Regions from separate parts of the Homo sapiens genome. Here region 2 is linked to region 1. A link means that fine-mapping ties the variant in region 1 to the expression of a gene that starts in the linked region. Tissue or cell type: whole blood. Region 1 holds a variant in brackets; the other region holds the start of a gene. All regions are shown on one strand. Distances are from middle to middle.

What was found. PIP is the estimated chance that this variant, and not a neighbour inherited with it, causes the effect.
Region 2: PICALM starts here. The variant in region 1 is fine-mapped to the expression of PICALM in whole blood (TOPMed, PIP 0.98).

Annotation. Positions count from the first base shown.
Region 1 is chr11:86,201,607-86,209,820 of GRCh38, reverse strand. No RefSeq gene overlaps it. Among named protein-coding and RNA genes, the nearest start is that of LINC02695, 12 kb to the right of the region's middle. RefSeq lists enhancers at 6,610-7,110, 7,111-7,611. The variant T/A (reference allele first, on the strand shown) is at 3,724.
Region 2 is chr11:86,065,959-86,074,172 of GRCh38, reverse strand. PICALM (phosphatidylinositol binding clathrin assembly protein) reads left to right here and starts at 5,089. Exons shown (of 20, transcript NM_007166.4): 1 at 5,089-5,522. The coding sequence starts at 5,393. It overlaps LOC124902731 (a long non-coding RNA gene), which reads right to left and starts at 4,249. Exons shown (of 2, transcript XR_007062823.1): 1 at 2,476-4,249; 2 at 1,672-1,855. RefSeq lists silencers at 4,575-4,844, 4,995-5,164, 5,305-5,354, 5,425-5,474 and enhancers at 4,100-5,299, 5,039-5,740, 5,741-6,443.

The DNA.
Region 1 (8,214 bases):
AAACCTTTCCACAGCTCTCCACTGCCTTACAGAATGTGTTAAACACTGGAGTATTTGACTGAACCAAGTAGAGGTAACTGAGTTGAATGAGGTCAATGTTGGTTTCCAAAAACAGTGAGTTTACTTGAAGTTTACTTGAAGGAAGTAAGGAATATGGAATATCGAGGAGAAAGAACAAAGCAAGGACTAAACCTAGACCTGGAATATTTCAGGGAAAAAACCCTAGACTTACTTCTACATCCACTAAAGCCAAACTTCTGCACCTACCAAACCAAACTTCTCATGAACACACACACACACACACACACACACACACACCCCACAGAACCTATGAGATTCTACTAATTTTTTTTTACCAGATAAATAGAATAGTAAAATTAGTAGGGTACATTTTACCAGAAGTAAGCTGTTTTTACTTACAGCACTTCTGACACCAACTTTTTGGGTTGTTTTCTCACACCAACCAATTCTCCATGTCTCTGGAAATTGACTGGGTGTCCAACAATCCAATTCAATTAGCACTAACTACTCAGAGTTGGCCTCTGACTCTTCAGGTTTAAGGGCTCAGAGCCACAGGCTGCCCTCATTTCAGATGCTACGTGCAATATCAGATCACCTGTACTTCTCCACCCTCCCCTAGCTTTATTAAGCTATAGTTGGCAAATAAAAATGATATATATTTACAGTGTACAATGTGAGGTTTTGATATATGTATATGTGGTGAAATAATTAAATCAAAGTAATTAACATATCCATCACTGCACATACAACTTTTTTGTAGTGAGAACATTTAAAATCTATTGTCTTAGCAATTTTCCAGAATACAATACAGTATTCTTAACTATCATCACTATGCTGTACAATAGATCTCCAGAATTTATTCATCCTAACAGTTAGAAACCCTCTACCCTTTGACAGTATCTCCCCATTCCTTTCTCCTTACCCCCAGGCCCTGTTAACCACCATTTTACTCTCTGCTTCTATGAGTTCCACATATAAGTGAGATCTGTAGTATCTGTAGTCTTTCAGTGCCTGGCTTATCTCACTTAGCATAATATCCTTTAGGTTTACCCAGATTGTCATAAATGACAGAACTTCCTTATTTTGAAAGGCTGAACAATATTACATTGTGTGTGTGTGTGTAAAACATTTTCTTTATCCATTCATCCATTGATGGACACTTAGATTGATTTTCTGTCTTGGCTGTTGTGAATAATGCTGCAATGATTGTGGGGATGCAGATATCTCTTCAATATATTGATTTCCTTTCTTTTGGATATATATCCAGAAGTGGGATTGCTGGGTCATAAGGTAGTCCTATTATTAATTTCTGAGGAACCTCTACGTGATTTTCCATAGTGGCTGTACCAATTTACATTCTGACCCACATTGTACAAGGGTTCCCCTTTGTCCACATCCTCACCAACATGTATTATCATTTGTCTTTTTGATAGCTATTCGAACATGTGTGAGGTGATATCTCATTGTGGTTTTAATTTAACTTACATTTTCCTGATAATTAGTGATGTTGACCATTTTTTCATATACCTGTTGGCCATTCATACGTCTTCTTTTGAGAAATGTCTATTCAGGTCTTTTGCCTTTCTTTTCTCTTTTTTTTTTTTTTTTTTTTTTTGAGACGGAGTTTCACTCTTGTTGCCCAGGCTGAGTACAATGGCACAATCTCAGCTCACCGCAACCTCTGCTTCCCGGGTTCAAGAGATTCTCCTGCCTCAGCTTCCTGAGTAGCTGGGATTACAGGCGTGCACCACCACACCCAGCTAATTTTGTATTTTTAGTAGAGACAGGGTTTCTCCATGTTGGTCAGGGTGGTCTTGAACTCCCAATCTCAGGTGATTTGCCCACCTCGGCCTCCTAAAGTGCTGGGATTACAGACGTGAACCACTGCACCCGACCCTTTGCCCATTTTTAAATCTGGTTATGTGTTTTCTTGTTATTGAGTTGTTTGAATTCCCTGCATAGTTTGAATACTAACCTCTTATCAGATATATGGCTTGCAAATACTTTCTTTCATTCTATAGGTTGTTTCTTGTCTTTTTTCTCCTGCACATAGCTTGTATTCCATAGATTGTTTCTTTTTCTATAGGAAGCTTTTTAGTTTGATGCACTCTCGTTTGTCTATTTTTGTTTTTGCTGCCTGTGCTTTTAGGGTCATAACCAAAAAAAGTTATTGTTGAGGACAACGTCAAGAAGCTTTTTTCCTATGTTTTCTTCTAGTAGTTCTACAGTTTCAGGTCTTATGTTTAAGTCTTGAATCCATTTTGAGTTGATTTTTTTTTTTGCATATGGTGTGAGACAAGGGTCCAGTTTTATTCTTTTGCATGTGGATATCCAATTGTCCCAATACCATTTATTGAATAGTCTGCCCTTCTCTCATTGTGTGCTCCTGGCACCTTTGTTAAAGATCAATTGACCATAAATGTGTGGAATTATTTCTGGACTCTCCATTCTGTTCTATTGGTCTATATGTCTGTTTTTAATGCCAGTACCATGCTATTTTAGATCACCTGTACTTCTATATGACCAGCCATAAATCAAATATCCCCATAACCCCCTCCTAAGTTTCAATGATTTCCTAGACTGGCCAACAGAACTCAGGAAGGCACTTTACTTATATTTGTATTTTAAAGGATACAAATGAAGAGCCAATGAGTGGTATAGGGACGAGGCCCAGGAAAGTCCCAAGCATAACAGCTTCTGTACCATGGAGCTGGGGTGTGCTACCCTCCCAGAATGCGGATGTGTTAACCAACTGGGAAGCTCTCTGAACTCCATTGCTTATGGGTTTTTTTTTTTTTTTTTTTTTTTTGAGAAAGAGTGTCGCTCTGTCGCCCAGGTTGGAGTGCAGTGGCGCAATCTCGGCTCACTGCAAGCTCCGCCTCCCGGGTTCACGCCATCCTCCTGGCTCAGCCTTCTGAGTAGCTGGGACTACAGGCGCCTGCCACCACGCCCGGCTAATTTTTTGTATTTTTAGTAGAGACGGGGTTTCACCGTGTTAGCCAGGATGGTTTCGATCTCCTGACCTCGTGATCCGCCCACCTCGGCCTCCCAAAGTGCTGGGATTACAGGCGTGAGCCACCGCGCCCGGCCAGCTTATGGGTTTTTATGCAAGTTTCATTAAGTAGACATGATTCATTAAATCATTGACCATTGGTGATTGAACTCAATCTCTACCCCCTCTCCCCTCCCCAGCAGAATGGGGATGAAAGTTCCAAGTTTCTAATCAAGACTTGGCCTTTTTGGCTTCCAGCCCCTATGCTGAAGCTTGCTAGGGGCCGTCAGCCACCAGACATCTAATTAGCATGCAAAATATAGTCTTACCCTTATCATTCCCAGGATTCCAAAATGTTTCGGGAGCTGTGTGCCAGGAATCTGGGACAAAGATAAGACAAAGATATTTACTTTTTATAATACCATAAAGGCCATTTTTGCTTGCTGCTTCTTGTTATCTGGTGATGTTGTTAAGCATGAAGAAATCATTCTAAAATCTGAGGCTGAAAGTTCATATCAATAACTAAAACTGTACAGATTTAAATGTGTGTTGACTTTAACTTAGAATGCACATCCATTCAGATGTTACATATGCACATTCACAAGGCACATTTGAAGCCTATGCTGTGAATGAAGAGTAGTCTGGGAGGCCCTGCAGCCCTTAGCAATTTGGTCTTTACTTGGAGTTTGTATTTCCTTCCTCGCTTTTTA[T/A]ATTACGTGGCCTTGTCTCATGATGGCACCATTGTGACATATTGTACCAGCTGGCCACACTCTGTTCAACTGTTGTTTGCTTAATGCATTCTCTCATGATAAACTGGACCCAAAGCTTACCTATTCTGCCCCCCACTCCAACTTTAGAATGGCAGGCAAATGATGAAGTTTCCCATGGGAAATCTCTTTTATTTCTTTTTAATATTTTATGTATGTATTTATTATTTAGAGACACTGTCTCTCTCTCTCTCTGTCACCCAGGCTGGAATGCAGTGGCGCAATCATAGCTCACTGCGGCCTAGAATTCCTGGGATCAAACGATCCTCCTGCTTCAGGCTCCCAAAGCGCTGGGATTACAGGTGTGAGCCACCACGCCTGACATCTGCAGGAAATTTTAACTTTATTTTCACCACCATTAGTTCAATTACGATCAAGAATTTACACGTACAAGTCTTGTAAGCAGCTTTGTATTGCTTAACTCCATTTTTGCAATCATCTTAGCTACTGTTTCTGTATTGATGTTACGCAAACGTATACCACTTTATTGGTAAACTGTTTGTTATTTTGTTTTTATATTTTAGTTGGTTCTACTTCTTTGGGTGTCTTTTCTATTGTCTTATTCCTTAATGTGTATGCTTTAAATGTGTATGTCTGAGATACTGTTAAAAAAAAAGATTAATTTTACATTTGGATGGCTGGTAAATAACATAATTTTAGTGGACATTTATTACAATAAATAAAAGAGAAGAGTAAATTCTTGTAGGTTTCTATGAAATCAGTTTTCTTGTAGCATTATACTCACCTAATATAGACTAAACAAAACATTCCTGTGCTTAACAATTAGTAGCAAGTCCATGCCATTCACTAAATATTTATTGAGGACTTTCTCTGGGCCAGACACATATGGGGTAGAGCTCACAGGACATAGCAAGATGCTGTGTGTCTAGAGTTAAAAGAGCAACAACAGGCCCTATCACTCTTCTGCTTAAAATACTTGGATAGCCTTAGGTCCAAATCAGTTCAAAATATTCCTTTACCATCCAGACACTGGCTCAAGGAGCTCAAAAAGGGAAAAGGTGGCTTTAAAATACTGAGCTGTGGCTGGGTGTGGTGGTTCATGCCTGTAATCCCAGCACTTTGGGATGCTGAAGAAGGTAGATCACCTGGGGCTAAGAGTTTGAGACCAGCCTGGCCAACATGGTGAAACCTCATCTCTACTAAAAATACAAAAAATTAGCTGGGTGTGGTGGTGCACACCTGTAGTCCCAGCTACTCGGGAGGCTGAGGCATGAGAATTTCTTGAACCCAAGAGGTGAAGGTTGCAGTGAGCTGAAATTGCGCCACTGCACTTCAGCCTGGGCAGCAGACTGAACACTCTGTCTGAACAACAGCAACAACAAAAAGATGCTAAGCTGTGCCTCTGACCCTGCATTTTTTCCTCTTTGCTATGTCTTAGTACTTTCTGGTCATGTTTCATATTAATTATTTCTGGTTTCCTGTCAGCTTTGAATTAATCCTAGCTTTGTCCCCTGGGCCCTCACTTTCAGATCCTCTCAGTTCTATTCCATGCATATTATGGGGAGTGTCTTACCCTACCCATAACCACACCCAGCTTCTGTAAGTATAATCCCAGAATGGCATCTGAGACCCCACTTGCCTGGCAGAGGAGTTTCGATGTGTTCCATAGCTTTGATGTTACTATTCCTTACTTTAAGACACAAGATGCTTTTAGATCTGACACATGTTCATTTCACTAGCTTGTCTCCTGCCATTCCTCAACTAGGATGTTATGGATCTGTCCTATTGAATTTCTTGAGCAGTTTCTGGAGCATGTAATTTTATTTCCCATCTCAGTTTTTGCACATGGCACATTTCCTTCTCATAAAAACCCTTGCTCCACCATCCCCAATTCTCCAGCTATCTCCTCCTCTTAACCTCAAAGCTAGTTTCAGGGGTCGCATCTCCCAAGAAGTTCCAATCTCACTTAGATGCTTCTCCTTTAGGCTACAGTGTTTATGGCACAGTAGCAATTGCTTTACTTATGTGTCTCCCCCCTGCTCCCAGATTTTGAAAGAGGTTACCACATTTTATTCGACTTTTTTTTTTTTTTTAAACAGAGTGTCACTCTGTCACCCAGGCTGGAGTGCAGTGGTGCCAGCTTGGCTCACTGCAATCTCTGCCTCCCGGGTTCAAGTGATTCTTATGCCTCAGCCTCCCAAGTAGCTGGGATTAAAGGTGGGTGCCACCACACTTTGTATTTTCAGTAGAGACAGGGTTTCGCCATGTTGCCCAGTCTGGTCTAGCATTCCTGAACTCAGGCCATCTGCCAGCCTTAGCCTCCCAAAGTGCTGGTACTGCAGGCATGAGCCACCATGCCCAACCTTTTATTAGACTTTCTATCCTATCCCTAGCCTATGATAGGGACTCATTAAGTGACTATTGAGTAAATCAGTGAATGAATGAATTAATGAATAAGTGAATATATTGCCTAATACGTCTACTTAAAGCCTCTTAGAAAGCAGGTGTGGTATGAATTGTAAACAAACAATAGTACTACAATCTTAATATGGAGGGTGAAAAATAGAAAGGTCTTCAACAGATAATATTTTTTTCTATTTATATATGTTCCTTTTTTTCTAGATATGAGCAAAAGTCTGAGTGCCAATTGCTGAATCAAGATTTACCCAAATGTTACCAAAACCAATGGCAAGTTAGTCAAATTTAGGACTCATCAGTGAGTTAACAATTATTGAGTATCTATTATGTGCACATCACTGTTTATAAGGATGTTGTGATTTAGTGAGGGAGCATATACAAAAATAACCCTGAGGAAGGGCAGACTGTAATAATCAGATTAGAGACTCAAACCACATTCTGTGGGATTCAAATGGAAAAAAAGATTAATTCTTATTAGAAGTAATGAAGTCAACAATGTATGGGGTGGGCACAGGCTGTGAAAATCAGGACAACCAGCTAATTAATGTTGCACAGAATAAATGGTGAATTGCATAACATCTATTGCTTGTCAGCTGGTTGTTTTGCTCTACAACTGCCTTAACCTCTGAGTGACATGGAAGTGAGAAAAAGAAGGAAGTGCAGCAGGACTCAAAGGGGAAGAAATGACTCTTGCTAAAGAAGGAAGAGAAGTGGAACCAACCACAGGGAGGAGAGATGGGGTAAAAATTGCTTTGAGGCCGGGCGCAGTGGCTCACGCCTGTAATCCCAGCACTTTGGAAGGCCGGCCAAGGCGGGCGGATCACGAGGTCAGGAGATGGAGACCATCCTGGCTAACACGGTGAAACCCCGTCTCTACTAAAAAAAATACAAAAAATTAGCAGGGCGTGGTGGCGGGCGCCTGCGGAGGCTGAGGCAGGAGAATGGTGTGAACCCGGGAGGCGGAGCTTGCGGTGAGCGGAGATCGCGCCACTGCACTCCAGCCTGGGCGACAGAGGGAGACTCCGTCTCAAAAAATAAAATAAAATTGTTTTGATTCCGTTGTAGCATTTCCTTGAGTCTCTTCAGTTCTAAGAATAGGGAAAGGAAGAAAAGAAGAGAGCCTGTCATGGAACCAAAGGAAGACAGCATCAAAATAAGGAGAAAAGAGCAAAGAAGCAGAAACAACTTGGAATTATGCCACAGAATTATGCCACCATACTGCTGCTTATAAAACGTTCATACTGAAAACGTTTTAGTGACGGTACAAATAAAAAGGTGGAGGAGGCATGGTTGTAGATAACGGTCTAAGGAAAAAAGTGTGTTACTATGGTTATCATTAGAACTTTTCACAAATAGTCCCACTCTTCCCATTAATGTACACTGGGGGATCAAACTGCCACCTCCTTTGAGGATTTATATGGCTGTGTGGCTTGCATTGGCCAATAAAATGTGAGGGGAAGTGACAGATATGTAGAGTGTATGAGAAATACCTTGCAGCCACTGAGATTTGGAGTGTTAGTATAAGCTAACCTGTCTTTACTAATACAGTTACCCACAAAGAAAAGGAAAAGATTGCTAATATTTATGCAAAAAAAAAGATTGAGAGAGATAAATTTGTAGGACAGGTCAAAGGAGTACTATAAGAGTTGGATTTAAGTTAGAAATAAAATGTAAAGCTAAATAGTTAAGCATTATAAAATGTGTAATAATTTCTTTCTTCTAATTATTGTATGTCTTTCTCTTTGTAATATTCTTCTTCATACACAGCATCTGCTTTTACAGTTTCAACTACTGCCTCAGTGTGAACACTTAGAAACTCATCTATCTGTTTTGACAATAATATTCACATTTCTAACTGCCTACAAAAATGTACATATTTTAAAAGACTCCCAGTACAACTGTTCACACATGTTCATGTCTAAGAATGAAACAATGAAACTCCCTAGAAGACCAAACCTCCCCCAAAAAAATTCCTTTCCCCTTCCTGTTAACAAAATCTCCCCTCAAGCTTTGCTAGTTAACTTAGATCACTTCCTCCTTATTCCTCTTTATTCA
Region 2 (8,214 bases), 140 kb after region 1:
ACAGTCATACATCACATATCAATGGGGTAAGTGCTGAGAAACGTGTCATTAGGCAATTTTGTCGGTTTCAGAATATCACAGAGTGCACTTACACAAGCCTAGATGGTATAGCCCACTACACACCAGGATTATATATTATAGCCTGTTACTCCTAACCTACAAACCTGTGCCACACATTACTGTACTGAATACTATAAGCAACTGTAACAAAATGGTATTTGTGTAGCTAAACATATATCTAAACATAGAACAGATACAGTAAAAATATGGTATTATAATTTATAGGACCACCACTGTATCTGTGGTGTGTTGTTGACTGAAATGTCACGCGGCACATGACTTTATTTGTTTAGAGGTTCTAGCAAGGGAACTTAGCTATGAAGAAAAGTCCTTACCTTTTTAAGGTTATGTGAAGTTATGATCTCTAACTGATTTGGCAGCATCAGGAAGTGTAAACACAGAAAGGTGAGGGGGGAAGGGTTTGCCATGTGTTCATATCAGTTTAGTTAGCTTAATATCAAAAGATTATAATTTAGATAACAAAGTGTTATAATAAAAGTAAAAATTCTGGTCAATTCTCTCTTCCATATTCCTTTTCTCTGCCACTTTCTTAAGTCATTGACGATGACTTAAGGTTCCTCAGGTGCAGCATACTTTTACCTATTTTCTCCTTTGTTAAGACTTAGACACTAAGATCTCTAAGAACAGAGGCCCTGTTTGTCTTGCACATTATTTTATCATAGCGTCTAGAAAAGCCTGGCACATGGCAGGAAGGCAAGAACTATCTGTTGAATAAATTTAGTCTATATTGGCAGTTGCTTCAAGTACTGGCTAAAGGGTCTGGGCAGAGTATTGGAAGGATAATTATTTTTTAAATCTTGCTTCTGCCACTTAGTATCTGTGGGATTTTGGAAAGTTACTCAATTTCTAAGACTTGGCCGGGCACGATGGCTCACGCCTGTAATCCCAGCACTTTGGGAGGCTGAGGTGGGCGCATCACAAGGACAGGAGATCGAGACCATCCTGGCTAACACAGTGAAACCCCGTCTCTACTAAAAGTACAAAAAATTAGCCAGGCGTGGTGGCAGGCGCCTGTAGTCCCAGCTACTCAGGAGGCTGAGGCAGGAGAATGGCGTGAACCCAGGAGGTGGAGCTTGCAGTGAGCCGAGATCATGCCACTGCACTTTAGCCTGGGCAAGAGAGCAAGACTGCCTCAAAAAAAAAAAAAAAAAAATTTCCAAGACTTGTCTGTTTTCTTGTATTGGATGGGCACGATACTTGGACATGATACTTTTTGAAATTATTGTTATGAGCATTACATTTTTAAAATGTAGTGTTTTTAGCACATAGGAGGCAATAAAAAAAACCTGCTCCTTCTCCGAACACTCCCTGCCTCTCTACAACATACCTTTTAGTTGGAAGAGCCTAGGAAATACCTAGGAAATGTGTTATTCAAGTTTTTTCCTTCTGTTTTTGGTCTGCTCCTTTACAATCAAAGCAAAGAGGCCTTCAAGTTGAGAACTAACTAGTTCCCAAAGGACTGATGGGTTCACTGTAAATAGTGTTTGGCACTTAGAACCTTTATGCCTGACACACAGTTCAACACATATTTTTTGAAAGAGTAAATTAATTAACAAGGTACTGAATAAGGATGATGCTCCAACCAGATAATTATGGGATGGACATGCTTTATTTATTTTTAGAAACAGTGTCTTGCTCTGTCATCCAGGCTGGAATGCGGTGGTAGGATCATAATTCACTGCAGGCTTAAACTCCTGGGCTCAAGGGATCCTCCTGCTTCAGCCTCCCAAGTAGCTATGACTATAGGCTTATGCCTCCATGCCCAGTAGACATGCTAAATGTGTGAAAAAGTGGGCAGATTTTATCAAATGAGAGGTTTGGAGTGATGGTGTGTCCGAATGCGTGATTTCAAAGCGTTCTCATTCATTCGTTCAATCACCATCTACTGTGTATCTACCTTGCATCAACCATAATACTAGCATGGATGTATCTCTGCACCCCCATGTTAGTGCAATTAGTCAATCACAATAATAATTAGAGAACAGAAGGATATATGAGTAACAAAAGGAAATCAGTAACTGCTTATTGGTATGTGAAACAGCATGACATCCAAGTATGTCAAGTAGTGTGATACTGTCTGGAGTGCATTTAAAGGAATCAGAAGAGATGAGGCTCAACAAGTAGTAGGTAGGTAGGGGAATTTAGAGGAATGGGAAGAGACAAGGCTCAACAGGTTTAGGTGGCCATGTGAGTTGGCACATGTGGAACTTCAGGTAAGATATTTCTTAAATAGACTGAAGAAACTGACACAGAGAAAACTTAAGTATATAAGATAAAGTAGGTCAGTAATGCCTATTCTTAGTTCTAATTCCCCATCTTCTTCTAAATTGGTCCATGTATTTCATTTCACAATTACACATAAACCTCTACAATGGTCACTGATTATTTACATACTTAGAAACTTCTAAAATGAGGCCAGATCATGAAGAACCATGTATGCCAGGTTGAGAGTTCTTAATTTCATCCTTTAGGGTAGCGATGGGGGAGTTACTGGAAGATTTTAATGCAAAGAAAAGACAATCACATTTTGGTTTCAGAAGGATCTGAATTGGAGAGTCAGGGTATAAAAGACAGAGAATCAGCTAAGAAGTTACTAAAACAGTCTAGTATAACAGAGATCATAAAGGCTGGAACTAAGGCAACAGAAGTGGGGTTAGAGATGGGATGTGTTTGAGAGATAAAAGTAGATTAGGCTTGATGAGGGAAATAAGACAGAAGGAGAACTCAGAATCACAGCTTTCTGAGCGGAGCTTCTGGACATGTGGTGAGGCCATTAACGGATATAGGGAACAGTATGGATTAAAGATGTAGGATGCTGGGCAAGGGCAAGAGAAGTTCAGTATTGGCCATGGTGAGTTGGCATCTGTGGAACTTCAGGTAGAGATATTTCCTGAATAGACCAAGGAAACTGACACAGAAAACTTAAGCATATAAGACAACATAGGTCAGTAATGTCTACCCTTAGAACAATTCCCCATCTTCTTTTAAATTTCTCCATATATTTCAGTTCACAACCACACATAAACCTCTTCAATGATTACTGATTATTTACATAGTTAGAAATTCTACTATGTATACTTGGAAAAAAATAAAATATTTCTAACAGCAGCTTGTTTGTTAATAGGGTAAACATGTCAACAATTATTGTCACAAAAGTGGTCTGAAAGAACCTCTTTGGTAAAAGTAATAGTGTAATACTTTCCTGTTATGTACTTAGGAATGACTGGCATTTTCCCTAAGGATAAAATATTCAGCTGTTGATAGCTAGACCATGTTAGTGTTGACCTCAGATTGGGGTTTACCAATGCAGAGGCTCAGGCCAATCAGTAACTTATACAGTGGAACCCATAGACCAGTAGCAATGATGGCTGATAACATGTCTTGAGAATTTGGTAATTCCACTGCCCAGTGGACGTGGGGCAGCAAACTGGGCACCAAACCACAGATGGATTGCAGTACACTGAAGGAATTCATTATAGTTTTGTGAAATTGGAGGCTGGCTTGACAAAGATGAAGCCTGCTGGGATTAAAAACTTGTGTGTTCTTGGCAAGAGCATGTTGCTGCAGAATTTCACCAGCCATAGTGGGGAAAAAAGAGGGGTGAGGGGGCGTGGGGAAAATGGGAGACCACAAAATTCCTGATATGATACATAAAATGTTAAATATCTATCAGCTTTGCATCCTTTGAGAGTCACCAGATTGAAGCACAGTATTTTGGATTTGGCTGGCAGATGGTGTACACAGACTTTCTGAGAATGTTAGCATTTCATTTGAAACTAGCAAGATTACATGTGACTATCATGGTAACTTAGCACTCACATATTTTTCAACTTATCCCTAACCCTGGGTTGAATGTAGAGGCTCTAATAACATATAAAAGGCTTTGTTAATGTATGGTCTGGGTCTCATTGAATAGTATTTCAGGATGTAATACTTCTTTTAAAATGTCCACAGGGCAGTGTCAACGTCTTTCCATGGAAATCTGGCTCACCCAATAAGAGAAAAGAGGCCAAAGGTAAGAAAGACTAAACCAGGGGAGATGGCAGGCAGTGATGTCTGGACTGTTTGAATGGGACTTCTCCATTTACCGCCCCTCTCACTTCCTTCTATGGTCTGGACCTTTAATCACCACAGCAGTCAGCCATGTAGGGTCAAGCTAATCGCTGTTGACATCATCCTACTACTTCCCTTTTCAAATTCCAGTGAAGCTATGTGTTTCCTGTCCTATTCCACACCCTAGAGAATGAATACCGGCCAGCTAGTATCTAAATTTAGAATGGCAGCAACGTGTCGGGTTTTCGGAGTAGAGATAAACAAAACCAGGTGACATTTCCAAGCCTCTCAAGGAAAGGGGGGAAAAAACCTTTCTGGGGTAAGTAAATAAGGAGAGCTTCAATAGTTCCATGGTAGAGAGAGGCCTGCTGGAAGGTTCAGAAAATAGGCCGTTTGGAACCTTCTCCTTTAAGCCAGGAGGGCGGCTTTGGGAGGCGTCTTGAAATACATTCTTGACTCTGCTGGGAAAGCTCGGGGAGCCAGAGGCCTAATACCCCCCACTTCAGGGGAAGCTGTGAAGGCAGCTGCACCTCCTTTGTCAAGCTGTTGGTTTCAACCACAGACACGAGGACACACTTGAGGTGGGGGGATAAGGGGAGAAGCCTGCCGCCCCGCCCCACCCCCGCCAGCACACCGCCCTCGCCATTCCTCTCCCGCCCCGCCCCGCCCGGCGTCTGTGACCCCGCGGGCCGAGCCTCAGGCGACCTGTTGGCAGGGAGAGTCACGTGATGCGCCGGCTGTGCACTCCCCTCGGGCGGGCCTCCTGTTGCGCCCGCCTGGCGAGTTCCATCACGTAACGCGCGGGCGCCGCCCAGCTCTTCCCTCGCTGAGCGAGGGAGGGCGGGCGTCGAAGAGGAAAGGGAAGGGGAAAGGGGCGGGAGAAGGGAGGAGGGGCGGTGTCCGAGTCACGTGACCCGGGGCAGCCCGGAAAGCTCCGAGGAGGAGCCTGGCGCCGCCATTTTCCTGCAGCTGCCTGTTCCTCTTACCCTGCCCGGCTCCAGCTGACCCGGGAAGGGGTGGGCTGAACTGAGGCGGGGGCAAGGGAGTGCCCGACATCTTGTCCGACTCCGCGGGTGACACGAGCCGGTTCTCTCTGGACTGGTGGCAGCGCGCGGCCCCGAACCGCGCCCCAGGCCGGCAGGCGGGGAAGGAGCCGGTGGGGGTAGGGGGTGCGGTGGGGGGTGGGGACCCTCCGGCTCTTGGGGGTCCCAGTCCCCGCCGGCTGCTGAGCGGGTGGGGTGGTGGAGGAGCTGCAGAGATGTCCGGCCAGAGCCTGACGGACCGAATCACTGCCGCCCAGCACAGTGTCACCGGCTCTGCCGTATCCAAGACAGTATGCAAGGCCACGACCCACGAGATCATGGGGCCCAAGAAAAAGCACCTGGACTGTGAGTGAAGCCGACCGCGGCCCCCGCTCCCCGGCGCCCGCGCGACCCGCGCGCGTCCTTCTCTCTCTCTCTTGTCTTTCACCCTTCTACTGCCTCTTCCCTCCCTGCGTCTTCTCTGGCACGGCCGGTCCTGTGCCCGTTGAGCTGTGTTCTTTTGCTTCCATCACACCTGCCTTCACGGCCTCCGCTCCCCGTCTCAAAATCTGACAAGCCACTCCCCTCCCTATTCCTAGGGGACCCTCGTCTCCCTGCCCGGTGCGCTACCACACCCCATCATACCCAACCAACTTGCTTCCCCACCTGGCTTCTCACCCCCTACCCGTCTCCACTGCAGCCTTCTGCTCTTCCTTCCCACCCGTCCGGTGCCGCCTCGTCGCCCTCGTCTGAGCGTCTCCAAGCCCCATTGTTTCTTCATCAGCCTCCTTCGGGTTTCAGTAAACGCCTGGTTCCTTGCATCCAGATCCTTGTTATCCCTCCGGGCTGCCTCCCTGGAAGGGATCCCCCACTTCCTTTGCTCCACTAGCTGCTTCGCCCATCCCTTCCTGGCTTTCTGTTCCACCTTCCCTCCTGCTTTTGGGTTACCTTTTCATCGCCTCTATAGTAGCTTCAGTGTAGTTTCTTCGACTCATTTTAAATACCATACCCAGTTACCCGACTTTTATTTCAGATTACCTTCTTTGTGGGAGTGAAAGTAAAAGGATTCAATTTGGTGTAGGGAAAGCTTTCTGGAAAGTTGGGATTTTTATTTGCCTCTGGTGGAATTTAATCGTTGTGTTGTCCATACTTTTGACTGGGGTGAGTTTGTGACTGTCAGCTCTGCCCCCCAGCTTTTCACATGGGGATATGGAAAAAGGCATTTTGCTGATACTCTTATCAGTTCCTGGAACTGTTAATTCTGGCGGCTTGAATTCAGAAGCTTGAGTGTTAAGCGTAGACTGTTGGAATTCCAAATGGATTAATAAATTTACTTACAAATAACATACATCCCTTAAAAAAATTGGCAAAATGATGTTTGATGATGCTTGAGTTTGGATGTTTTAATTATGCCAGTTACCTTTTGAGGAACTAGCTTTAGCTTCTCTTACACGACATAGTATTCGTCCATTCGCTAACGTAGATACAATTAGTAGAGCTAACTCCTCGTAACTTTTTTCTAACCTGGAAGTCACCTGTAATACCCTCCTTTTTCTTTGCGCTCTTTTACCCCAGGGTACAAAGCTCATTGGATCACTCAAGCCAATGGAGCTTAGACCTGAAACTTTTCAGGGAAAAATAGGGCAATAGTCACGATAAGTAAGTTCCCTTTTTAAATGACTGGACACATTAGTCTGACTGACTTTCATCATACATGAAAGTTACTTTGTTTTACTGTTTGAAGCAAGAGTGAGCATGCCCTGAAAGATAATTCACTGTCTGGAAGCCTGTTTTGATTTCTCATTTGGACTTTGGCCGTAAAGTTTGCACTTTAAAAAAAATGTACGAAATGTAGATTCTTCCAAGTTACTGTGCTCATGAATGCTGTTAGAACAAGTTTTTGCTACACAGAAGCCTATTATTCTTTGTGATTGTTCCTCCACTGTGGAAAAAAGTTTTAAATAAAAAAGCATTAGTGCTTGATTCTTTCAGATATGCATGCAGGCTGCTTTTAAACTCTCAGTCCTTGCTTGTCTTAGAGAATGGAGAATATGTTTAAATGGTGACACTCTTATGAACAGAAAACTTTTTAAAATGCATCGTAAAGCCATATGTGATTTTTTGATTATCTGATACGTGTAGTAGACGTTTCTGCTATTTACGGCTCTTCAAATACTACTTGGTTTGCCCTACCAAATCTTACAGTTTGTCCTGACACTGTGTTAATTCTTTTGTTAGTTGCTTTTGGTTTTTTTTTGTTTTTTTTTTTTGTATGGGAGTATGAAGAAACTAGTTGTGACTGTGTGAACTATTTTCCTCTTTCCTCATTCAAAATAAGAATCGATAAGGCTTTTAAAAGTTTTTTTTGTAAAGGTTTGTGTCTTATTTCAAATGTAGCAGTGGTTCTTTTAAAGCATTGTCAAAAAGAGGAGAAAATAGGTAGGGTTAGAAGAGTGCTATTTGCATGTTGTTTCATAAATGTTATTAGCTATTTCTCTTGTTATAGCCACTACTGCAGATAGATGGTAACTGGGATTAGGTTTGGAGGATAATCTTGCATTTGTCGTTCTTTTTCTCTACCACTTCTGTGTTTACAAGCTCCCACGTTTTTGGAACTTGAATATACCTGGTAGTATTTGATTTAAAAATATATGTGTCGTTAATGTGCTTCTGTTTCTTTTCAATGAGGTTTTAAAATACAGGGATACTATTTTCCCTACATTGTTGATTAAAATGTCCTGTAATCAGTTCTCACTAATAAAATACCTTTATCTTAGGTAAAGTCTGACCAGTGAGTGGTTTACTAAACAAATACCTTCCTTGCACACACTAACATGCTTTGAGAAAATTAAAAAGTCTTCTACGGACAGTTCATGGTGTTGACATCATGAACTTTAGGCTTTAATACAGAAACCTGTCATTTCAAGTAATTTTTTGTCTTTTAGGAATTTTTCTTTATAGTGAAAGCTTAGTTTATGTGCACCTTTTAATGCCCCTAGCAACTGATGCTTATTTATATGAATCTAATGAAAATGATTTCATTTTAAAATGGCAGCAT